Homo sapiens: one gene and its partner. The gene in region 1 interacts genetically with each later gene. Each region holds a gene or a part of one and is shown in the gene's direction. Other genes may lie near its edges. The genes, in order: HEY1 and NOTCH1.

What was found.
Region 2: changes in HEY1 (region 1) and NOTCH1 together harm fitness more than expected from each alone (negative genetic interaction), as found in Homo sapiens cells (one study listed by BioGRID).

Annotation. Positions count from the first base shown.
Region 1 is NC_000008.11:79,759,903-79,775,119, reverse strand, and holds HEY1 (hairy/enhancer-of-split related with YRPW motif protein 1), read left to right. Parts: upstream 1-7,352; 5' UTR 7,353-7,456; coding exon 7,457-7,545; intron 7,546-7,825; coding exon 7,826-7,901; intron 7,902-8,027; coding exon 8,028-8,111; coding exon of another isoform or gene 8,112-8,123; intron 8,124-8,387; coding exon 8,388-8,469; intron 8,470-8,644; exon of another isoform or gene 8,645-8,856; coding exon of another isoform or gene 8,857-8,917; intron 8,918-9,348; coding exon 9,349-9,932; 3' UTR 9,933-11,110; downstream 11,111-15,217. UniProt on the Homo sapiens protein: Transcriptional repressor which binds preferentially to the canonical E box sequence 5'-CACGTG-3'. Downstream effector of Notch signaling required for cardiovascular development.
Region 2 is NC_000009.12:136,508,047-136,517,082, reverse strand, and holds part of NOTCH1 (neurogenic locus notch homolog protein 1 preproprotein), read left to right. Parts: intron 1-988; coding exon 989-1,102; intron 1,103-1,366; coding exon 1,367-1,600; intron 1,601-1,682; coding exon 1,683-1,793; intron 1,794-2,380; coding exon 2,381-2,573; intron 2,574-3,545; coding exon 3,546-3,691; intron 3,692-3,948; coding exon 3,949-4,062; intron 4,063-4,341; exon of another isoform or gene 4,342-5,811; coding exon 5,812-5,931; exon of another isoform or gene 5,932-6,053; intron 6,054-6,277; coding exon 6,278-6,430; intron 6,431-7,103; exon of another isoform or gene 7,104-7,121; coding exon 7,122-7,350; exon of another isoform or gene 7,351-7,610; intron 7,611-8,011; coding exon 8,012-8,213; intron 8,214-8,697; coding exon 8,698-8,851; intron 8,852-8,943; coding exon 8,944-9,036. UniProt on the Homo sapiens protein: Functions as a receptor for membrane-bound ligands Jagged-1 (JAG1), Jagged-2 (JAG2) and Delta-1 (DLL1) to regulate cell-fate determination.

The DNA of each region.
Region 1 (15,217 bases):
CAGATCACTTAGTGGATTAGCAGCCTCTAGTTTCAAAGATGTAGAGTCTGTGAATTCCAGTTTGGGGCTCACATGGAACTTTCTGCTATACTTTCAAGTTTTTTTTTCTAGTGGTGCCAAAGGCATATACTTTAAACTTTAATAATTTAAAATCATTTTGGATTTATTTATAATAAATATCTAAGAACATAAAAAGTAGTAAATTATGAAATACTTGAAAACCAAATCCAAAGAAGTCATATACCCCAACTGTTGCAGTATTATTTCAGCATCCAGGCTACCTAGGAAACAAGGCTTCACTTCCACTAAATGCAACTTGGTACAAAGTCCAGGGAGTGACATTCTCCAGCTTGCTTTAGGACACCCTAAGATTTATCTCATTTATATCTCGAGCTGTCTTGGACGTGTAAAAATAAAAACTAGTTGAATTATTTAAAGTATGAAAATATTCTGCAAATTACTATTTTAATTAGCTTAATTGAGAAAAGTATGCTGTATATTAATGTTTGTATCATTTTAACTGAGAAAAGAATACACTGTAAATTATTCTTTGAGGGAAAGAGGGTGTCATGGAATCAAACCAATGGCAGAGATTCAGATACAACTTTGGGCAAATCTCTTACTTCCTTTTGCATAGGCTTCCTTTTCTAAAACTGGAGAAAATAATACCTCCCTTTTCCTGGGTTGCTGTGAGAATTCAATCAGTTATATGTAAAGTTCTAAAAACTGTTTCTGGTATATGGTGCCATGAAGTGCTATGAAGGTGTTTGTTATTACAAGTATTTAAAAGGTAATATAAATTACTTTTAAGTAATTGGTCTCTTTGATTAGTCAGCAAAGAACTTTCAGAAATAGAAAGTCAGATGCTTGCTCTCACTTATAAGTGGGAGCTAAATAGTGTGTACATATGGACACAGACTGTGGAACGATAGACATCGGAGACTCGGAAGGGTTGGGGATGGGAGGGGGATGGGTGACGATAAATTACTCAGCAAAAGTTATATTTCAGCACTTAGTAATAATTTGTATTAAGTTGGTTTTCATTTGTGATTAATTTTTTTGTGGGTCAGTCATCTTTAACCAAAAGCAAAATGCATCTACCCTTACGCTATGACAAGTTCCCAAAGTGTGTTCCTTGGTATGCCGTTTCAATGGAATATTAGCACATGTTATGTGAAGAAAAAAGGTGCTGTAACTGGTGAGTTTGGGAAGTGCTGGGTTAGACAAATGTAAATAAGGCTTCTTTACTAAGAATGTCTCTGAGCTTTTCATGCTGTAATGTGCCCCGAGATCTTACAGGTGGTTTTCCAGATGTATCTGGAAACAGATTCTTTTATTTACAAAGCATCTTGAGAAATTAATGTTTTGTGAAATGCATGTTGGTATTTTAAATATATATATATGTATATATATGTATATTTTAAAAGATGGAGTTGCTCATTGTGAGGGAATTCACTGGCAGGCACAAGAGGCTCAGGAAGGCTCAGGAAGAAGGCCAGGAGTTCCAGCCTTGATGGTCCAGCAAGGCTCAGGAAGAAGCATCCCATATTCTTCACATCATCATCATCATCACCGTAACTTAAAAGCATAAGGCATAACATTTGTTTGGCACTTGAAAAAATGCTTTGTCTCATCTTATCTTTTGAAAAACAAAATGAACGCTGAGCTATTATTTTATGGATGAGGAAACTGAGGTTCAGAGGGTAAAGGTGTGATGATAAGCTCAAGGTCACACAGCTAGTAAAGAGTGACTTGAACCCAGGCAGGTGATTTGAAATCCCTGCTTTTTCCACTGTACCATACCACTGCCTGTTAGGGTTCCAATTAAACAATTCCTTCAAGGCAAACACCAAGGCATCTCACATCTGACCTCAATTAGGAAAGTTGATAGTGGAAGTGCACTTTTGCATGGCATGACATGCCACAAAGCAATCTGGTGTTTGAGATGCTGCATCTAGAGAAAGCAGCAAGCATGAGGAACAAAGGAAAACTGTCACTTAGTCAAAATTCCTTGTGTTCTCATGAAGGAGCCATCTCTGAACTCCATGAGTACACTCCTTACTTATACATGTATTATAGCGCTACATGCTCAGGAGATGTTTCTTAGATTCAAAAAGCAAAACTTTCACTAATAATGAATAGCAGATGCTTATATTACTCAAAATAATCTAGTGCTCTTAACAAGAAGCACTGTTTCCTTCTCCTGATGTTAAAAGGATATTACTTTCTAGAGATTCTGTTAATATATCCAATTACTACATAATTATTTATACTGCCTTTCAACCTCATTAGACGTGTAACAGAGTATCAGAAGAAAACACAAAAGTAACTTAGTGCTCAGAGTTTATATACTCATGGGCAGAGAAGGTATATTAAAAGCCAATAATAGCAGATGCTGTTTATTGGGTGCTAACTAGTGGCCAAGTATTGTTGTAAAGTGCTTCATATAATTGATCATATTTAATTTGTGACATTGGAAAATAACTATTACTAATATCACCATTTTTTTTTTTGAGACGGACGGAGTCTCACTCTGTCGCCCAGGCTGGAGTGCAGTGGCGCGATCTTGGCTCACTGCAACCTCTGCCTCCCAGGTTCAAGCGACTCCCCTGCCTCAGCCTCCCACGTAGCTGGGATTACAGGTGTGCGCCACCACGCCCGGCTAATTTTTGTATTTTTAGTAGATAAAAATATCTACGAAATTTCACCATATTGGTCAGGCTGGTCCTGAACTGCTGACATCGTGATCCAACCACCTCGGCCTCTCAAAGTACTGGGATTACAGGCGCGAGCCACTGCGCCCAGCCAATATCACCATTTTACAGATAAGATTATTGAGGCTTAAATATCATGTAGCTAAGAAGAACTTGTGAGCAGCTTGATAGAGATTGTGGCTTTTCAGCCTGATTGCTCTAGGCCTGGCTCAGTGCCCAGCACAGACTAGGGGCTTTATACAAATTTGTCAAGCAAGTACATAAGCAAGCAAGCCCTAAAGGTTTCAGCCAGCCACTGGCTAGCTTTACCTAAAACTTGTTTTGACAAAGACCTTTGCCTCAGAATGGTACAGCAATTAGACTAAGAGGTTAGAGAGAGCGGCAGCCCCTTCTTTCTCAGAGCTGCAGGTGTAGCCTCTGGTCCTCCTGAGCACTATGTCCCATGCCTGTTCAATTGAGATCACCTGCACCCACCAGCAAACTGACAGAGACAGGGCCTCATGAAGGGTATCCAAGTAGGGACCTCCACAGTGGCCAAAGCTCTAATGAATGAATAATTGACGACTGGGGCTTCCTCAAGGCCAGTCTCACACCCAGCTACTGGTTGCATCCCTTCCAACAAGCTGGCCACCCTAAGCCTCGTTCATAGAGAAATGCTGCAGCTGGAGTTTGAGGATGAGCTGTTCCTCCCTGGAGATTCTACCACTTTTCCTCTGGGGAGGCCCTCACCTGGGCCTGGCCTTTCGAGTGAATTCCTAAATCTGGAGTGTCTCTCTCTTCCAGGACATCTGGAGTATCTCTTCTGCAAGGGAACGCAGATAAAAGCAGCCTGCGGAACGGTAAGCTAAGTAACTGAACCCAGACTCTACAAACCAGGCAAGAAAATAGGCCTTTGAGCGAAATAAAAAAGGGTGATTCTTCAGGAGAGACGAATTATAAAAGGCAACACTTGCCCACTTCCCCACCCCCAAATGGTAAAAGGTCCTTTTCCTGAGGGGCCAGGCCTGGGCAGTCCCATTTAAGTTGCAGAAGGGGTCAATTTGCAGGACGTACCTTTCATTCAGGGTAGCAAAGATGTTTAAAGTCGTTCTTCACTCAAAGCCTCCAGGGGTAAATCCCTTCTACACAGCAGATGGGAGAAAATTGGGCCTGGTGCCCTCAGTGTAACTCTCTCCTCTGATCCCACCACTCAAGGAAGAGGTCTCCGCCCCTTCCTTCCCGGTTATTACTGAACCACCTAGTTCACCTCTTCTTGATCTTAAGTCCCTTCCAAACTCAGAACAGGCCTTCCCAGACCTCATAAAGAATCCTCACCCCCTCGTTTTTCCTTACCAACAAGTGCTTCCAAGCACTGGAGCATCCATAACTACTTTACTGTGTATTCTCTGTCTTCTCCCTAGGATGTGAGTTCTAGGAGTGCAAGATGGATGACTTTTGGGTCACCTTTGTGTTTTCAGGCCCTAGCACAGCACATGGCACATAGAAGAATACGTATTTATTGGAAGCATTGAAAAATCAGTCAAACTTAAGAAGCAAGACAACCTCATTTGTAATTTTTTTAGAGACAGAGTCTCATTCTGTTACCCAGGCTGGAGTGCTGTGCAATGATCATAGCTCATTGTAGCGTTGACCTCCTGGGCTCAAGCCTCGGCCCCCAGAGTAGCTAGGACACAGGCCACCATGCCCGGTTCATTTTTAAATTTTTTCTAGAGATGGGGATCTTGCCGTGTTGCCCAGTCTGGTCTGGCACTCCTGGCCTCACGCAAACCTCCCACCTCAGCTTTCTACGAAGCTAGGACTACAGGTGCATGCCATGCCTGGCTAATTTTTAATTTTCTTTTTTAAGAAATGGGGATCTTGCTATGTTGCCCAGGCTGATCTGGAGCTCCTGGACTCAAGCAATCCTCCTGCCTCAGCCTCTCAAAGTGTTAGGATTACAGGTGTGAGCCACTGCGCCTGGCCGTAGAGAACCTCCTTTTTGACATAAAAGTAATCATGAACATGTGAGCAATATTTCATTTGGATGCCAATGTAGAGTTAAGCATCCCTAACCCCACCCGGTCTCGTCTCACTCAACATCTGCAGCTTGTCCACGCCTCTCCACAGCAGCAGAAATGAGCCAAAGCAGGAAAGGCTGACTCATTGTAGGTGCCAGAGGCTGGGAAAATCTATAGAGCCAGAGGGGAAGTAGACACGTTGGTTCTGGGGAAGGGTGGCCTGTCACTTTGGGGAAAGAAATGGAAGGTCAGAGGGACTTCTGGAAGGCAGAGGGGAGCAGGTGGGATGGTTTCCTATGCCTGGACCATCAGTTTCTGGGAGGGAAGAGGCAGGAAGTAGTGATGGATGCCCTGGACTGAAGACTGGGAGGGCCAGGAAGGAGCCTTAAAATTTGCACTTCCAGAGAGAAAGTCGGCTGGTGGGATTGACCTCGGACTGACAACTAACAGGCAGCATGCGGTGGAGTTTCAGGAAGCCAGAGGTCTGGGGTGCCAGCAGCAACAAACCCAGGCTGGCTGATGGAAGGGCCCAGCCTAGACAGGGAAGCAGAGGGGCTGCATGGAAAGGCTCAGGGCTGGAGGTGATGTGAAGTGGAATAAGCTTCAGTGGGAGCCAGGAGGTTGTATTTCCCGTTGGGGGCGGTGGTGGAGGGATGGGGGTGCCCAGAGAGGAACTATGGATTAGGCCCAGGCCGGCCACTCAGAGTGCTTGGCATCCAGGATGTGTTAAGATGGCATTGAGGCCGAGCGCGGTGGCTTAGGCCTGTAATCCCAGTACTTTGGGAGGCCAAGGCAGGCGGATCACCTTTGGTCAGGAGTTTGAGACAAGCCTGGCCAACATGGTGAAACCTCGTTTCTACTAAAAATACCAAAAACAATTAGCTGAGCATGGTGGCGCGCGTCTGTAATCCCAGCTTCTGGGGAGGCCGAGGCAGGAGAATTGCTTCAACCCGGGAGGCGGAGGTTGCAGTGAGCCGAGATCGCGCCACTGCACTCCAGCCTGGGCGACAGAGTGAGACACCATCTCAAAAAAAAAATAGCATTGAGATCAATAAGGAAGTCTAGAAACCAGGAAGCTTTTTGCAAAGAGAAAACGCCTTTTGTTATTCTCACCGATGGATATTAAGCTTTCCCTCACAGACAGGACTACAAGCTTCAGAGTGGATCTGAGATGAATGCGAATTGCTGTGTACCTTTGTAAGGGACAGAAGACCGGATTTTCAAATTTAAAACAACCATTCTGTTTCTGGAATCAGAAATCAGTTTCGAGATTTACAACTGTATTTTTTAAAAAATCTGTCTTCTTAGTGGACTCGGGGGGGACTTCACGTGGCACCCAGTACACGCCACGCCAAGCCACCGAAGCCAGAGGTGTGTGTCTGGGGCCAGAGACGTGCATTCCCTCAGCAAGGCCGGCCTCAGACGCAAACGCCAGCACCGCCACCCTGTCGCCCGCTGAGAGGATCTGGCCGCCGGGGGGAGGGGGCGGGGGGGGGGGCAGCGGGGGAACAACAAAAAAATCCCAGCATAATGATTATTCCCAGGGACCGTTGGGTTTTTTTTTCCCCAAGGCGGCCGAAAAAACAAGTGCTCCCCTTCCCCGGAAATGAGATGCACAGGGGTATTCATTCCATTCCGCGGCTGGGAAGCCCCTGCGGAAACGAGTCTGGCTGCATGTGCGGCCTCGGTCCCAGAAATCAAAAAGAGCGTCCCCTGAGCCCACAGCTTGCTCCTCCATGTGACCGGCCCCTGGGCTGGTGGCCACTGTGGACGCGCCCGGCGCCCCCTCTCCCGGCTCCCTGCGGGTTCCGCGGAGCCGCCGGCGCGCAGCCCGGCCAGGTGCACCCGGCACGGCCCCACTAACAGCGCGCGCCTCCAGCCGCCGGGCACTGGCGGCCACGCGGGCGAGATTTACGGTGGCGCTAGGCGGCGGCTTCCGAGGCCGGCCGGCGCCCAGGCTCCGATTACAGGTTCACACTGGGGGCCCGGCCGGCGGCCGCCCAGCCCCCGCCGGCGCGCCCTCGCGCGGCCCGGCTCCCCGCCTGCCCATTCTTCTCCATTCATGCGGACGCCCAGCGCCGCCGCCGCCGCCGCCAGCGCGGCCGCCGCCGTCGCCGTCGCCGGCCGCCCGGATTGGCTGGCGGCCGCGGCGCCGGCACTTTCCCACGGCCCGCGGCGCGTGCGGCTCACCGGAGGCGCTGCAGGCTCGGCCCTGGCGCGCGGCCAGGCCAATCGGGGCGCGCGGGGCGGGGAGGAGCCGCGGCCGCCGGCGGGCTTGTGTCCCGGCCCGGCCTCCCGCGCCTCCCCGCCGCCCGCGCCTCCTCCTTCCCCTGAGTGCAGGCTGGACAGAGCCCCCGCGGAGCCGACGCACCGCCGCCGGGCAGGGGCGGGCGCGGAGGGCGGGGGCGCGGTCCGCTAGAGCCCTCGGCCTCGCTCCCGCCCCTCCCCGGAGCGGCTGCCAATCAGCGGCGCGAGAAACCGGATTGGCCGGGGGGCGGCTGTTGCCCTGGAGTTGCCGCCCCGCCTCTCCGCCCCCTCGCCCGCCTTCCCCACTCCCCCGCCCTCCCCAGGGCCCTGGGAAGGGGCTCAGCGTGGGAAAGGATGGTTGAGTTTTAACCAGAGGCAAAGCGTGAGCGGGATCAGTGTGTGCGGAACGCAAGCAGCCGAGAGCGGAGAGGCGCCGCTGTAGTTAACTCCTCCCTGCCCGCCGCGCCGACCCTCCCCAGGAACCCCCAGGGAGCCAGCATGAAGCGAGCTCACCCCGAGTACAGCTCCTCGGACAGCGAGCTGGACGAGACCATCGAGGTGGAGAAGGAGAGTGCGGACGAGAATGGGTGAGCTGGCGGCGGCGGAGCGGAGCCGAGCCAGAGCGGGAGGCGAGCGCAGGCCTGCCGCGGTGACAGCGGGCTAGGACCCTTGGCGCGCCGGTGCCCTGCGCTGACCTCCGCGCGTCGCAGGCTGGCGGCAGCCTGCGGCCAGGGAACCCCTAGGTGCCTTCCAGCCCAAGTGGCAAAAAAAGTCTGAGTGCGGGGAGGGTGTGGGGGCGACCTCTCAGATCACCTCTCCTCGTTTAACGGCGATTTCAGTTTTTGTTTGTTCTTTTTCTCTTTTCAGAAACTTGAGTTCGGCTCTAGGTTCCATGTCCCCAACTACATCTTCCCAGATTTTGGCCAGAAAAAGACGGAGAGGAGTGAGTCTCTTTACACTCTCCTTTTATTTTTGTTATTGATTAACGGAAATAACCACCTTTTTTTTTGTCTTTGAAATTTACAGTCGTAATGGTAATGCCTTCCTTTGTTTTGCTTGCCTTCTGCAGATAATTGAGAAGCGCCGACGAGACCGGATCAATAACAGTTTGTCTGAGCTGAGAAGGCTGGTACCCAGTGCTTTTGAGAAGCAGGTAATGGAGCAAGTAGGTAAAGCTCTCAGCATAGCTATCTGCACCTTCTGAATCTTCCCCTCATTAATCTCATCCGCCTTGGAAAATAGCTGTGTTGCTTGTGCCTAGATGAATTCGTACACAGATACCAGCGTATTTTGTGAAGACAACTGATTTTGCTTTAGTCCATGCTTTACGATTTACAAAGCATGTATCTTTGTATATATGTTTGCATATTTTAAATTGTTCCCCAAAGGAACTTGTGCCAAATCAATCTTTTGCCATTCTCATCTTTAGGGATCTGCTAAGCTAGAAAAAGCCGAGATCCTGCAGATGACCGTGGATCACCTGAAAATGCTGCATACGGCAGGAGGGAAAGGTACATCTCCTAGACCTAGTGGGGGCTCTGAATGGTTGGCAAAGAGTGAGCAGCGGCTGAAGGCCAGGATTGGTGCAGTAGCTGCCTGATTTTTCTTTGGGGGTGGGGAGAGAACGGTGTGTGGTGTGTGCAGTTCCCTGTCAGTACATTTTCGAATGCACATAGAATCTTCTCCAGTGAATTCACCACCCCAGCTCTCTGCGGATTGAGCTAGTGCATCTTTTGGAAAAATACCTATTATTTGTGAGGTCTTCAAAAGTTGTGACAGCCCTGATTCAGATCAGGTAGCTTTCACATTTGTCCATTGCTATTTTGAGAAAAAGCATTTAAAAACAATATGTGGTCTTATTTTTGGTATACGGGATTTTAAAAAAAAGGTGCTGCCACATGCCTCTTGAGGAAAGAAATGTATTCTGGTTAAGTAAAGGAAACCTAACGGGAGACCAAGGTCTGTGTGTATGTCTCTCCAGCAGGAAAATGCTTTACTGAGGTCCAAGTGCCTAAAAGCTCCGCGATGATAACTTACATCTGTGTGTCTAATGAATTTCACTGCTCTGTGGTTTCTCTGCCCTTGATGTATTTTTTGTTGTTGTTGAGGGAAAACATTAAAGGAATGAACATAGTTTCATCTGCTGGTAGGGTATAATTCCAATTTCTGCTCTGCAGCTTCTAATTGGGCTTTGAACTTGCATTAGCAAACACATTCTGCTTATGTTGATTAATGCAAAGATTTTTGTTGATTCCAAAGACTTTCGGAAGAACCCCTGACTGTTGTGTTTTAAGGGATGCAGGTATCTGCCAGGAAGGGCTGTCTCTGGGACTTAAGAAATGAGGGAAACGGGCAAAGCCCTGAGATTTTTCTTTTGTTCTTTTGCTTAGGTTACTTTGACGCGCACGCCCTTGCTATGGACTATCGGAGTTTGGGATTTCGGGAATGCCTGGCAGAAGTTGCGCGTTATCTGAGCATCATTGAAGGACTAGATGCCTCTGACCCGCTTCGAGTTCGACTGGTTTCGCATCTCAACAACTACGCTTCCCAGCGGGAAGCCGCGAGCGGCGCCCACGCGGGCCTCGGACACATTCCCTGGGGGACCGTCTTCGGACATCACCCGCACATCGCGCACCCGCTGTTGCTGCCCCAGAACGGCCACGGGAACGCGGGCACCACGGCCTCACCCACGGAACCGCACCACCAGGGCAGGCTGGGCTCGGCACATCCGGAGGCGCCTGCTTTGCGAGCGCCCCCTAGCGGCAGCCTCGGACCGGTGCTCCCTGTGGTCACCTCCGCCTCCAAACTGTCGCCGCCTCTGCTCTCCTCAGTGGCCTCCCTGTCGGCCTTCCCCTTCTCTTTCGGCTCCTTCCACTTACTGTCTCCCAATGCACTGAGCCCTTCAGCACCCACGCAGGCTGCAAACCTTGGCAAGCCCTATAGACCTTGGGGGACGGAGATCGGAGCTTTTTAAAGAACTGATGTAGAATGAGGGAGGGGAAAGTTTAAAATCCCAGCTGGGCTGGACTGTTGCCAACATCACCTTAAAGTCGTCAGTAAAAGTAAAAAGGAAAAAGGTACACTTTCAGATAATTTTTTTTTTAAAGACTAAAGGTTTGTTGGTTTACTTTTATCTTTTTTAATGTTTTTTTCATCATGTCATGTATTAGCAGTTTTTAAAAACTAGTTGTTAAATTTTGTTCAAGACATTAAATTGAAATAGTGAGTATAAGCCAACACTTTGTGATAGGTTTGTACTGTGCCTAATTTACTTTGTAAACCAGAATGATTCCGTTTTTGCCTCAAAATTTGGGGAATCTTAACATTTAGTATTTTTGGTCTGTTTTTCTCCTTGTATAGTTATGGTCTGTTTTTAGAATTAATTTTCCAAACCACTATGCTTAATGTTAACATGATTCTGTTTGTTAATATTTTGACAGATTAAGGTGTTGTATAAATAATATTCTTTTGGGGGGAGGGGAACTATATTGAATTTTATATTTCTGAGCAAAGCGTTGACAAATCAGATGATCAGCTTTATCCAAGAAAGAAGACTAGTAAATTGTCTGCCTCCTATAGCAGAAAGGTGAATGTACAAACTGTTGGTGGCCCTGAATCCATCTGACCAGCTGCTGGTATCTGCCAGGACTGGCAGTTCTGATTTAGTTAGGAGAGAGCCGCTGATAGGTTAGGTCTCATTTGGAGTGTTGGTGGAAAGGAAACTGAAGGTAATTGAATAGAATACGCCTGCATTTACCAGCCCCAGCAACACAAAGAATTTTTAATCACACGGATCTCAAATTCACAAATGTTAACATGGATAAGTGATCATGGTGTGCGAGTGGTCAATTGAGTAGTACAGTGGAAACTGTTAAATGCATAACCTAATTTTCCTGGGACTGCCATATTTTCTTTTAACTGGAAATTTTTATGTGAGTTTTCCTTTTGGTGCATGGAACTGTGGTTGCCAAGGTATTTAAAAGGGCTTTCCTGCCTCCTTCTCTTTGATTTATTTAATTTGATTTGGGCTATAAAATATCATTTTTCAGGTTTATTCTTTTAGCAGGTGTAGTTAAACGACCTCCACTGAACTGGGTTTGACCTCTGTTGTACTGATGTGTTGTGACTAAATAAAAAAGAAAGAACAAAGTATTCTGTGGTGTATGTCTTACATACCTTGGCCTTTCCCCCTCTTGGCTAAGAAAAGATAAACTTTCCTTGGTTTTCATTTTGCCTGATTGGTTTGTATGTTTACCAGTTTCATTATTCTTGGACTTCTAAACTGTGTGAATTCGTGCCGTTGAATAAGGTGACTTCATTACAATGCAGAGAGCTTTGCCCTGCCTCCTACAAGGGGACATAGCCCTTTTGCTCTTATGTCAGATGATCTGGCCCTAAACTGGCCATCTGTGGATTAGGAAAGCTGAAATCAGACTGAGACTTACAGGGGTTGAAAGGAGCTTGGATGAAATATTTTAAAACCGTGTTGACTATTTGACAAATATTTACTGAGAGTACCTACTATGTGCTCATTTCTATGCTGAGAGAATGGAAATTTATTTCTTTTATTAATTTTTTTTAAATGGCAAAACAAGAAGACCCAAATGTAGGGGCTCGGGACTCTGTGGCCTGATGAGCAGTGGCAGGCTGTAATTCTGCACCTGCACAGCTCCAGAAGTCTTCACTGGTCTTATTTCCAAGGAATTTAACTCTTTAGTTGCACTGGACTCCTGAGCTGTGTAGTGAGGAAGCTGACATATGCTTTAGGTTAGAACAAAACACTGCCAGCATGGAGGGCGTATTCTGGGCCCCAGGGGAGAGGAGTGTCTTCCCATTGCCTTAAAAATAGCCCTGTGCCAATTAAGGAGTGCTCCTAAGGAGTTTGTCTTGATCCTGAGGGCGGTGGGGAGGAGACGGAGAAAACCCATGCTGGCAGATGATAAAATAAAGCCTTCCTTTGCTTTGCCCAAACACGGAGCCCCTCCTCCCATCTGGTGAAAAAACACAGTCAGAAGACAAAGAGAAGTTTGGAGTTTGAATTTGAGCTTCAACTTCTGTGTCCCTGTGAAGGGATGGGAGACTGCAGCATTTTTGTGATTGTGGGTTTCCAATCCCTTCAAAGCTTTCTCTGCATGGCCTCAGACGTCGATCCCTCTTGTGATGCACAGCTCTGCTCTCAGCATTGCCTGTGCCACACAGACACTCTTTCTGTCATAAGGCTGTGATGGAAAGTGTTATGCTAATTTCTGCCAAGTGTCAGTTTAATTTTAGCAACCGCGATTTCCAATGACATTACAGCATTACTGAACAGCATTGTACTTCGACTATCTCTTACTGTTACATAGGTTTAGATGGCTGCTAATGTGGTAAGAAGTGAAGCCTCTCATTTGCTGGCTCTGCTGAAAGAGCTGTGGAACTGTAAAACATGTAGCATGTTCCACTTGTCTCATCAGTGATCGCTATATCTGGTTAGCGGGAGGCGTGGCAGTTCATTTCCAGATTACATACTTTTCCATGGAAATATTCTGGTTTCTTTTCAAGCCCTTTCAAGGTGAAAAGTATCTGAGGATGGTGCAGGTGGAGTGTGAGCTTCCTAGGAAGCAGGATGGAGTATGACTATGTACCAATAGTGTATAGAAAAATTAATTCAGGAAAACTCCCATTTCTATTCTGTTGATGCAATTAGGAAAAAAATAACACCAGGGTTATCAGGGCCAGCATATTTTTGTATTATATGTACATTTATAATACATCTACCAGTGTATAAACAAAATTTTTTCAGAGAATGCATAAGTTTACCTTATAAGGAAAATAAATCATTGGTTATAAAGAATCTTGAAGGGCTTCAATAATTACTCATTTATTTTCATTTAATGTATTACCATGAATCAATATGATGAAGTAGATAGATGGGCAGAATTCTTGTATTTAAAAAAGCCTCTAAAAATCCAAGGAATAATTGTTTCCAATTTATTCAGTCTAGTTAAATGAGGATGTGATTTTTATCCAGGTTTTCATTGCCCCACTCTGTGACTCACTAAAATCATGATATTTTAAATATAGATTACTTAAATTTGAAATCCCTCAGGAAATGTTTTATCTCCTAGTTATACTTTTCCCCAGCCTTTCCCATCTATACCAGTATCACAGCTTTGATGCCTTCATTAGTTTCTGGTGATGATTTATAATTAAAATCACTTCAGAGCTAATATCATCTGAAACACTGCTTCAAATGTGGCCCAATTTCATTTACAACTGGAGTCCCAGGGAATAAGAGCATCTTGGAAAGATTTTTGGCTCCTGCTTTTACCTAATTGGGTGACACTGGATAAGTCATTATGATTCTCTGAACCCCACTTTCCTCATCTGTCAAAGTGGCTGGACTGGGTGAGGGTTCCAGGTGCATGTGACGGGGACAGGCACTACTGGGGAGGAATGCAGTGGTATCAGGTGAGTGATGACCCAGGGAGGACGTCATATTTTCCCAGCACCCATTCTGTCTCCGGGTCTGGCTGAGGAGTCGCCGATTGTTCCTATGCAGAAATTTTAGTCCAGTGTTAGCAGATCTTTCAAGTTTCCAAAGGCATCTCCAAATTTGGATTTTTTATGTGAAATTGTCCAATTTTTATTGGTTAGTCACTAATTCACCAAAACCTGTCTTCCAGCAAGACTGAGCCATGGGCAACAACTATTTCTCAGCTTCCAGGGCTCTAATCTGAATGGCTCTCTGGAGGGCTAGAATTTTCTAATATCTTTGTCATCCGTGCTTTGAATACGCTACAATAAATGGGTAAACATAAGCTAAAATAAAATCAACACTGCAGTCTTTAGGCAGCTGTAGGTGATATTATGTAAAGATTACGTGCAGAGTTTTTTAAAAAATTACTTCTGGGCTGTCCAATTTCCTCAAGGTAAAATAAAGCAAGGAGAGAGGTTTCTGCTTCACAGAAACCTCTTCCAAAGGTGTTCTCAACTGGGTCCTTGCATTCCCTTTACCATGGAGGAAGACGAGTTCTCAGCCTGGCAGCCTGAAATGAAAGAGCGAGTGTGTAGCTCGCTTGTGACTCAGCACGCTGAAGTACTAAAAGGCATCATCTGATTTCAGGAAGTAAGACGTCTCAGCAAAAAGCAAGCTGTTTTGAACTTCAACTTGAAATATAATGCCTGCCTTGATCTTGATGAGCTGCAGGGTTTTTCTCTCAGATCCTTCAGTGTTCTGCTCTGGGGCGGGGGGTGGGGAGAGGCGAGAAGAAAGCCAAGGAAAAAGAAATCCAGGCCTTTCTTTTTGAGCTGTCTGTAGGTATTGATAGGCACTTGTCACAGAACTGTTCCCCCAAGCCTGTAAATCCCAGCAAAATTCAAGGTAAACAAATGTCCCTAAGAGATGAGTCTGAGGAACACAGACAGGTATCTGGATTTTGCGTTAATCCACTGCCACATTAGGCTTCTTTATAGTTTGGTTGTAAAATTTCCCATTGAATTTACTCCTATGTTGGTATTTTTTGTTACAGTCAAGTTAAAAGACCATGCCTAAATTTGAAAACTCTTAATCATAGATGGTTGGTAGGTTATCTATGGCTTGATGTAGCAGAAGAGACTTGAAAACGTTATATTTTAGCCAGAAAGAGACTGCCGTTTACCTCTGATAGAGTTGATACCCAAACAGTTTCTGTAGCTACTTTTAGTATTTTTTTTTTTTAAATGCCTCCCCTGGGCATGGTTTTGTTTCTGGTGCTTAGGGGTGTTCCATAAATGCAGCACTGAATCATAAAATTAAAGAATGACATATCTGAGGCTTTGATCATCCTCTTTGACCTCATTTCCTACCACTCGCCCCTCCTCACTGCTCCAGCCACACTTGCTGTCTGCTCTTGTGGGAACGTGCTCTACATGTTTGCATCTCCAGGCCTTTGTGTTGGCCGTTCCCTCTGCCTGGAATGCTTTTCCCCCAACGGTCTGCTGACCTATCTGTAATCTCTACTTGCGGCTCTGCTCAAAGGTCACCTTCCCCACCAGGTCTTTCCTTGCAACTCTATTTAAAACAATCATCCCACTCTCAGTCTCTCATCCCCACATCTGCCTCTCCCTACCTCCCTTTCTTCTTTTGTTTATCTCCACCGTACCCAGAATTATCTGACAGAATAGATACTTCATTGACTGTTTATTATCTGTTTTTGCCTGGTTTGTTCACTTCTACAGTTCTGTCACTTAAAATTGCCTAGCACATTAGAGGCTCTCAGTAAGTATTTGTTGAATGAG
Region 2 (9,036 bases), on another chromosome or scaffold:
TTGTGTCCCCTGCTCCTGGGCCGTCTGCACCCCGGCCTCCTGAGGGGGGCCTGGCCGTGGATTGTGTCCCCTGCCCCTGGGCCGTCTGCACCCCGGCCTCCTGAGGGGTGCCTGGCCGTAGGTTGTGTCCCCTGCCCCTGGGCCGTCTGCACCCCGGCCTTCTGAGGGGGGCCTGGCCATTGGTTGTGTTCAGATTCCCAGGAGAGCGAGGGTTTTGCCTCATGAGTGGATGGGAGTGTTTTCAGACTTCCCCGAAGGAAGGGCAGGGCCCAGTGGGGAGTGGGAGCTTGCCCAGGGGTCGCGGTGGAGCCCAGGGCCAGGAGATCCTCCTTGATCTGGGTGCAGCCCCTTCTGCCTGGAGAGAAGGGTATACCAGGAGCTGCAGTGCCCAGACAGGGAGGAGGCTCCAGCCTGGCTTTCTGAGGGCTCGATGCTGGGAGGGAGGCCAGCCTGCCCTGTCCTGCCATGTCCCCTGCCCAACGGCACGCCAGCGACAAGGGTATGCAGAGAACCACGTGGGGCAGGTTGGCCTGCAATGGAGATGATGGCTGCCCGGGGCGGACTTGGAGGAACTCTCAGGGGCCTGGGTGAAAGGTGTTTCCATCTGTCCCAGAGCTGGGGGCCGGGGCGCAGAGCCCAGGGAGGCGTTGCCAGCCCAAGCCTAGGCTCCCAAGACATAGATTACCCGTCCCAGACACTGGAGCGAGGGGAGCCCCATTCTCAGCCCGGCTCCACTGTAGCCATAGCAACCCAGTCGGTTTGGGAAAAAGGCCCCTTCTGTGGGAGCGAGGGCGTGTGGTGCTGGGGGAGGGGCTTTGATCCGGGGAGCGGGCAGCGGGAGGCAGGGAGAGCTGGAGCTGGCTGAGCTCAGGCTGAGTGTGCCCTGGGGAGCCCAGCCAGGCGCTCACTGCTGGGGTCTGGCCAGGGGTCCCTGAAGGGCCATAGTGCTGTTGCACATGACTCCCTCCCCTCCCCTCCCCGGCCCCAGGCTTCACTGGGCATCTGTGCCAGTACGATGTGGACGAGTGTGCCAGCACCCCCTGCAAGAATGGTGCCAAGTGCCTGGACGGACCCAACACTTACACCTGTGTGTGCACGGAAGGTGCGGGCTGGCGCCCACCAGCGGGGAGGGACTGGGGACGGGACAGGGCACTCAGGGCAGTGAAACTGACAAGGTCATGGACACCTTGGTCTGGGCCACCTGGTCCAGAGGCCGAGAGCACAGCTCAGCCCCAATCCTGAGTAGGTGGGAATGCCACGCTCGGAGCCCTCCTCAGGTTGGCACAGGTGACCCCAGGTCTGGTCATGGGTGTCCCGGGGGCCGCCAGTCCTAAGTCTTCCTGTGCCCGCCCCTCCCACGGTCCAGGGTACACGGGGACGCACTGCGAGGTGGACATCGATGAGTGCGACCCCGACCCCTGCCACTACGGCTCCTGCAAGGACGGCGTCGCCACCTTCACCTGCCTCTGCCGCCCAGGCTACACGGGCCACCACTGCGAGACCAACATCAACGAGTGCTCCAGCCAGCCCTGCCGCCACGGGGGCACCTGCCAGGACCGCGACAACGCCTACCTCTGCTTCTGCCTGAAGGGGACCACAGGTGGCCGGCCAGGCGGGTGGCCGGCGGGGGGCCAGTGGGCAGGGCGGGCCTGAGGACTGACCGACACGTGCCACCCCTTCAGGACCCAACTGCGAGATCAACCTGGATGACTGTGCCAGCAGCCCCTGCGACTCGGGCACCTGTCTGGACAAGATCGATGGCTACGAGTGTGCCTGTGAGCCGGGCTACACAGGTGAGCGGCCCTGCACGTGGGGGCTGACTGCACTGTGCTCAGAGGTCAAGGTCAGCCACTCTGCCCTGGGGCTGCTGAGGGGTTGGGTGAGGGCTTTGGTGCTGCCCACCTGGGCAGACCGTGGTCTGCAGCAGAGATTGCAGCGGGACCAGGGCTATAACTGGCAGCACGATGGGTCCCCCCGACCCCTCTTGTCTCCGGTCAGAGCTGTCCCAGGCCGTGTTGGCAGAGTGGCCCAGCAGGCCAAGAGGGAGCAGCCAGCCCTGAGGCCAGGCTTAAGTACCTTCTGCCTCTGTGGCTCACCAGCACCTTTGAGCAGGTCCCTCTGCCTCTCTGGGCCTCAGATTCTCATCAGTCAGGGCTGCAGTAGCCCCTGCCCCTGGGGCCCCTGGGAGGATGACTTGAGTGGGCACTGGTGCCCGGGGAGGCTGGCACATGGCACATTGTGATCCAAGATGGTTTCTGACACCTGGAAGGATGTGGCCAGAAGGGTGATCGCCCCGGCTCAACAGACAGGGAAATCGAGGTTGACGTGGGTGGGACCCCCTGGGCGCTGGGCCTCGGAGTCTGACCCGCCCTGCCCTTAGGGAGCATGTGTAACATCAACATCGATGAGTGTGCGGGCAACCCCTGCCACAACGGGGGCACCTGCGAGGACGGCATCAATGGCTTCACCTGCCGCTGCCCCGAGGGCTACCACGACCCCACCTGCCTGTCTGAGGTCAATGAGTGCAACAGCAACCCCTGCGTCCACGGGGCCTGCCGGGACAGCCTCAACGGGTATGCGGCGGGGCCGATCATGGGGACACATCAGTCCTAAACCCTGGGAGCTCTGCTGCCAGGAGGGTGGCACCTGCACAGAGCTTGAGATGGGCCAGAAACGGGCCTCGGACGGGGCTGGGTGGCAGGGAGCTCCCCTCGGGGACGCACATGCCTCTGGGTCCTCAGTCAGACTACAGTCCACACCCAGCAGCTGTGTGCTGCGTGTCCTTGTGGGCTGCATGGTGTGCTCAGGACACAGGCCCACAGTGACCCTGGAACACGTTTCCATGGTAACAGCCGCAAGTGTTTCTGATGCCCATGATGTGCCTGGCAGCACTCTGCCTGGATGGGACCATTTAAATCAGCAGGGACCCCATTGCCCTCATTTGGCGCAGAGAAGGCACGTGCTTTGTTCGGGGCCACACAGCGGGCAAGTGGTGGGGGGCTTTTCGCAGCACCCTACTGCCCTGCACTTGGCATGGTCCCCTCGCTAATGAACCAAACCCCTGCCGCAGTCTTGGGTATGGGAAGCGCTGCGGCCCCCACTTTTTTCTTTATTTTGAGACAGAGCCTTGCTCTGTTGTCCAGGCTGGAGTGCAATGGCATGATCTCAGCTCACTGCAACCTCCACCCCTCAGGTTCAAGTGATTCCCCTGCCTCAGCCTCCCGAGTAGCTGAGATTACAGGCATGTGCCACCACACCTGGCTAATTTTTGTATTTTTAGTATATATGGGGTGGGGGAGTTTCGCCATGTTGGCCAGGCTGATCTTGAACTCCTGGCCTCAAGTGACTCAGCCACCCCCGCCTCCCAAAGTGCTGGGATTACAGGTGTGAGCCACAGCGCCCAGCCTGCCCCCACTAAAGGACTCTGCGAGTCTGAGTGGATGGGCACCTCCGCCAGCCCATAGGGCATTGCAGACCCGGGAGTGCCCAGGCCCCGGCCGTGCTGCTCGGGCCTCCCTCGACCTGCAGTGTGGTCCCCCTTGCAGGTACAAGTGCGACTGTGACCCTGGGTGGAGTGGGACCAACTGTGACATCAACAACAATGAGTGTGAATCCAACCCTTGTGTCAACGGCGGCACCTGCAAAGACATGACCAGTGGCTACGTGTGCACCTGCCGGGAGGGCTTCAGCGGTGAGTGGGCTGCGCGTTTCTCAGTGCAGAGGGCCGCCCTCGAGTCTGGGGAGCTGGAGACACAGGATCGGGACCCAGGTCCAGCCAGCACCATGCATGGTGTCTCCCTCCCGTGGCAAAGCCTTAGCTCCAGGCCTCTGGCTCTTGGAGATGAGGAGGGGCCTGGGGTGGGGAGCAGGCCCAGGGCTGCTGTTGTGGGGCCCTGCCAAGGTGCCTGGGAGTGCTGGACATGCCGAGTGCTGTCCCCTTCCCTCCAGGTCCCAACTGCCAGACCAACATCAACGAGTGTGCGTCCAACCCATGTCTGAACCAGGGCACGTGTATTGACGACGTTGCCGGGTACAAGTGCAACTGCCTGCTGCCCTACACAGGTGAGGGGTGGGTGGGGCCTGTGCTGGAGGGGGCGGGGCCTATGTGGGAGGGGCGGGACCTGTGCTGGAGAGGGCGGAGCCTGTGCTGGAGAGGGTGGGGCCAGGGGTGGGGGCGGCCTGGGAAGCCGTGACTGGAGGGTAAAGTGGTGGCTTTCTTGGGGCGGGGCCTTCCAGAAGGTTCTGCGCCTCACTGAGTGCCTTAGGCCCCTGCAGTATGTGGGCCTTCTCCCGGGGGTGGGGTTGGCAGATTAGCAAAGATACAGGATGCCTGGGAGAAAATTTTCATGCAAGCATGTGTTTTACCTGGCAAGCCTGCCGCAAGACACAGGTAAGATGCAGGTGAATCCTTAGCAGGGCCGGGCCTGGGTCACTGGGCTCCGTGCTCCCGGCGCCCACCCTGCTGGGGTCTCTGGGGGCCGGGCTTCCCCACCCCCGCCAGCCGGACCTGAGGGATTCCTTTGATGGCGGGCTCTCTTTGTGTGAGCGGAACAAGGAGCCCTCTGTTTGGGCTGAGCGGGGAGGGGGATGTTCCCCCAACTGTCCAGCCCCTGCTATGAACCCAGCCAAGGGGATCACAGGAAATGATCTCCTCTAGAAAAGACAAAGAAGAGTCCACAAGCACCGGGGTCCTGGCGCTCCCCAGGAGCGGGCAGAGGGTGCTGCCACGGGGCCTGGTCAGGGAGGGCCTGCCTGGGCCAGGCAGCCGGGCTGGAGGTCCCACGCCTGCGGTTCCCATGACATCCAGCAGCCTGTGGCCAGAACGCTGTTTTCTTTGACCGAAGTTAAGGACCTGGGTTTTCTCTCCTGTGTCAGTCAGTGAGGACCCTCCCTCCACGGCTGGGCGCCCCTGTCCCTTTCAGACACGTCGATCGGGCCGGCAGGAGGAGCGGCGGTGCTGACCCGCTTCCTATCTGCCCGCTTCCTGCTTCCTTTCGCACAATTGTCGGAAACTCTGGCGCAGTTCCTGCCTGCCCGGGTCACCGTGGAAACCAATAGGAAGAGAGGCCCTGGAAAGTCGCCCCAGCAGGCCAGGGAGATAATGGGGGACAGGGAAGATAACGCAGTCCCCACGGCTATAAACAGGAAGCTCGGCCATGGGCTTGTGCAGAAAAAGGCCCTCGGCTGTGCACGTGGTTCCCACATAGCCTTTGCCAGACACCCTGCGTGGCCCTGGAGGTCTCCAGGCCGTGCCCCGTGCCCCGACACGCAGGATGTGCTGGGGGCCTGGGCCTGTCCCCTCCATCGCAGCCCTTGTTTGTTGGCCTCCCGTGATGGGCGTTTGCTGCCTGTGACACGGAGCCCCAGGATTAGTTTCAGGCCTCGGTCTCAGGCCAGGGCCTTTCCTCGTCACCCAGAGATGAGGGGGCTTGCGTCCGGGGTGGGCCCAGGTCCCTGCAGTGTCGTGGAGCCCACCCGACTGAGGCCGCCTCTCCTGGTGCAGTCCTTGTTCCTGGGCACGCCTGGTGGGGTGAGGCCTAGGCTGTGCCCCGCTGCCAACCGGGAATGAGGGGTGGCTTCTGAGCGTGACATTTGTGCAGCTTGTCTTCAGCGTCCCCCCATCTGTGCTCCACTCCTCCCTGGGTCAGGGTCCTGGCACAGCCGGGAGCGCTCAGGGGTCTCGGTGCACATTTGCCTCCCGGCGGGACCAGCAGACGGCACTCTGATGGCGGAAAGACCAGCAGGCGGTGGCCGATTTGGGAGATCCCTCTGGGTGAGGCTCCCGGGGTCACGTGTGTCTCCTTCCCGCAGGTGCCACGTGTGAGGTGGTGCTGGCCCCGTGTGCCCCCAGCCCCTGCAGAAACGGCGGGGAGTGCAGGCAATCCGAGGACTATGAGAGCTTCTCCTGTGTCTGCCCCACGGGCTGGCAAGGTGAGGCTGGCCAGGGCCCGGTGAGGGCTGGGATGGGAGGTCAGGATGTCTGCGGGACACAGGCAGCTCCCAGGCAGGCTAGATGAGTCTTTGAAGAGGAGCTGGTGGGTGCTGAGGAGGCCCTGGTCGGAGAAGTTCTGGAATCAGGAATTGACCTGGGAGCACCGTTCCCAACTCCAGTTCCTGTGACCTTCTTAGGCCAAAATTAGGGGAGAGGGGATGGTCCTGGGGTCACGGAAGCCTACTCCTGGGTCGGGAGAGGCACTGTAGGTGGGTGGGCCAGCCTGGGAAGGGCCTGGAGGGCCAGGGGCCGCTGGTGACCAACCGGCCTCCTCCTGCCCCGCAGGGCAGACCTGTGAGGTCGACATCAACGAGTGCGTTCTGAGCCCGTGCCGGCACGGCGCATCCTGCCAGAACACCCACGGCGGCTACCGCTGCCACTGCCAGGCCGGCTACAGTGGGCGCAACTGCGAGACCGACATCGACGACTGCCGGCCCAGTGAGTAGCCCCGCGGCTCTGGCCTCCTCCAGGAAGCTCTCAGGCCTCAGTTCCCCCGGGCAGGGTTGGTGCGCATGGTGCTGGCCATAAGCACCCAGGGAGGCCGGAGTGTGGCCGGGGAGGGTTGGGTCAGGTGTGGGGGATGTGCTGAGGGATGGCCAGGGTGGTTCAGGAGGGCCCCAGAGCCGGCTTGCTCCTCCCTGCACTTCGCGGAAGAGTCACGAGAGCCCCTCCCACGGCTCTTCACTGAGCCGAGGATGGCTCGGGCCCGGCCTGCACTCCCGCCTGGCTCATCGGGCCCCGCTGCAGGCCAGGGCTCTCAGGCCTCCCAGCCCTGCTTCACAGAGGTTGAGGTTGGCAGAAGCCGGGGGTCTTGCTGGCATCACCTGGCAGGCAGAGGCAAGAACTGTCTCTCCTCCCCTGCTCGGTCTGTGAAGCCTGCAAAGCTGCCCCCTGCCCTGGAGCTTGAGGACAGGAGCAGGTGGGGAGAGAGACCCCAAGCACAGGAGACGGGTGTGACGCAGCCTGTGGGTGCTGGGGCTCCCCACCAGACACCTTTGTCACAGGGCTGCTTGCCGCAGCCTCGGCAACGAAAGGCTGGGCTGTCCCCAGCCATGCAGCCTTCCCGGCCCCCTCCCGCAGGTGTGGGTTTGTGCCTGCCCCTCACACTCACCCTTCCGTCCTCTCCCAGACCCGTGTCACAACGGGGGCTCCTGCACAGACGGCATCAACACGGCCTTCTGCGACTGCCTGCCCGGCTTCCGGGGCACTTTCTGTGAGGAGGACATCAACGAGTGTGCCAGTGACCCCTGCCGCAACGGGGCCAACTGCACGGACTGCGTGGACAGCTACACGTGCACCTGCCCCGCAGGCTTCAGCGGGATCCACTGTGAGAACAACACGCCTGACTGCACAGAGAGGTGTGCGGGGCTCGAGTGAGGCCGTGGAAGGGAACGGGCGGTGCGGGCCACACGCAGTAGCTGGCAGCCTGGCACACCATGCAGGCGTCCGCCTAGGCCGGCTGGGCACTTAGCGCTGGCTGCATTGAGTCCAGACATTGTTCATTGTACCGACCTGTCCCTCCTGAGAGGGCCATTGTGACCTCCTCCTGTGTCCCGCACCAGGAGCGCCGGTAGTCTGTCCTGAAGAACTGGTGCGCTTCCTTCTATTAGACAACGAGAACTCTGTCCGTTCTTGTTTCCTTTTTGCCGTGTTTGCCAGGAAGCTCATTTGGTAAACGTCAGTCTCGTCCCTGGTTTCTGACGTAATTACCTCCCGTGTTACCAGGACGGTTTCTGGTTTCTCCCTCATTTACTTTAACCACCCTATGCCCACGCGTTTGGTAAAACCACTCTCGACCTGACTTATAAAGAAAGCAGGGGAGGGAGGTGTGACGTGGTGTGAGAGCCGGGCCCCGGGTTCCCACTGGCCTCCCTGGGTCAGCCAGGCTGCCCTGGGCCTGTCCTGGCCATCAGGCCCCTAGGGTTGAGCAGAAGGGGAGGTGCTGGCGAGGCAGAATCTGCTGGAGCGGGGACCCACCAATGCCCTCCACTCAGCCCCCGCCTGCCCACCCCCTTGCAGCTCCTGCTTCAACGGTGGCACCTGCGTGGACGGCATCAACTCGTTCACCTGCCTGTGTCCACCCGGCTTCACGGGCAGCTACTGCCAGCACGATGTCAATGAGTGCGACTCACAGCCCTGCCTGCATGGCGGCACCTGTCAGGACGGCTGCGGCTCCTACAGGTGCACCTGCCCCCAGGGCTACACTGGCCCCAACTGCCAGGTGAGTGCGCCGGCCACAGAGGTGCCCGAAGGAGGGGCCCTGGGTGGGTGCCTACCTGCGGGAGGTGGGAACGGTCACCCCAGGTCCCACTGTGTCGGCTCGGGGTCACCCCCACACCCCCGGGCAGAGGGTTTCTGGGGATCTGAGCAGCCGGTGAAGGAACCTGATGCGGAAGCAGCAGGCACCTTCGTTTCAATCCCAGGTTTCTGGAGCCGGGGCAGGAGCTCAGGAATTGGGGAATTGAGGAAAAGTGTTCCTTCTAGCAAAGGCCGAGGGTGGTCTGGACCTGCTGAGGGCCCTGAGGGAGACCCAGCCCAGGCTGTTCCTGGTGTGGGGGTGGTGGGGAGTCCAGGGGCGGCAGTTTCCACTTCTGTAGAATGGGTTGCAGCCTGGGTTGGAGTAGGCCCCTTGGCAGATGTGCGTTCTGAGCTACCGGGGAAATGGCCGGGGCGCGGGCACCCAGCTGACCCCAATCTGTCCCCAGAACCTTGTGCACTGGTGTGACTCCTCGCCCTGCAAGAACGGCGGCAAATGCTGGCAGACCCACACCCAGTACCGCTGCGAGTGCCCCAGCGGCTGGACCGGCCTTTACTGCGACGTGCCCAGCGTGTCCTGTGAGGTGGCTGCGCAGCGACAAGGTAACCTGCTGTGCCCACCCAGCTCGGGTCCCAGCCCATCAAGGTCCTCTGTGGGCCTGGGCCTCACCTGTCTACCACCCCATCCCCCGCAGGTGTTGACGTTGCCCGCCTGTGCCAGCATGGAGGGCTCTGTGTGGACGCGGGCAACACGCACCACTGCCGCTGCCAGGCGGGCTACACAGGCA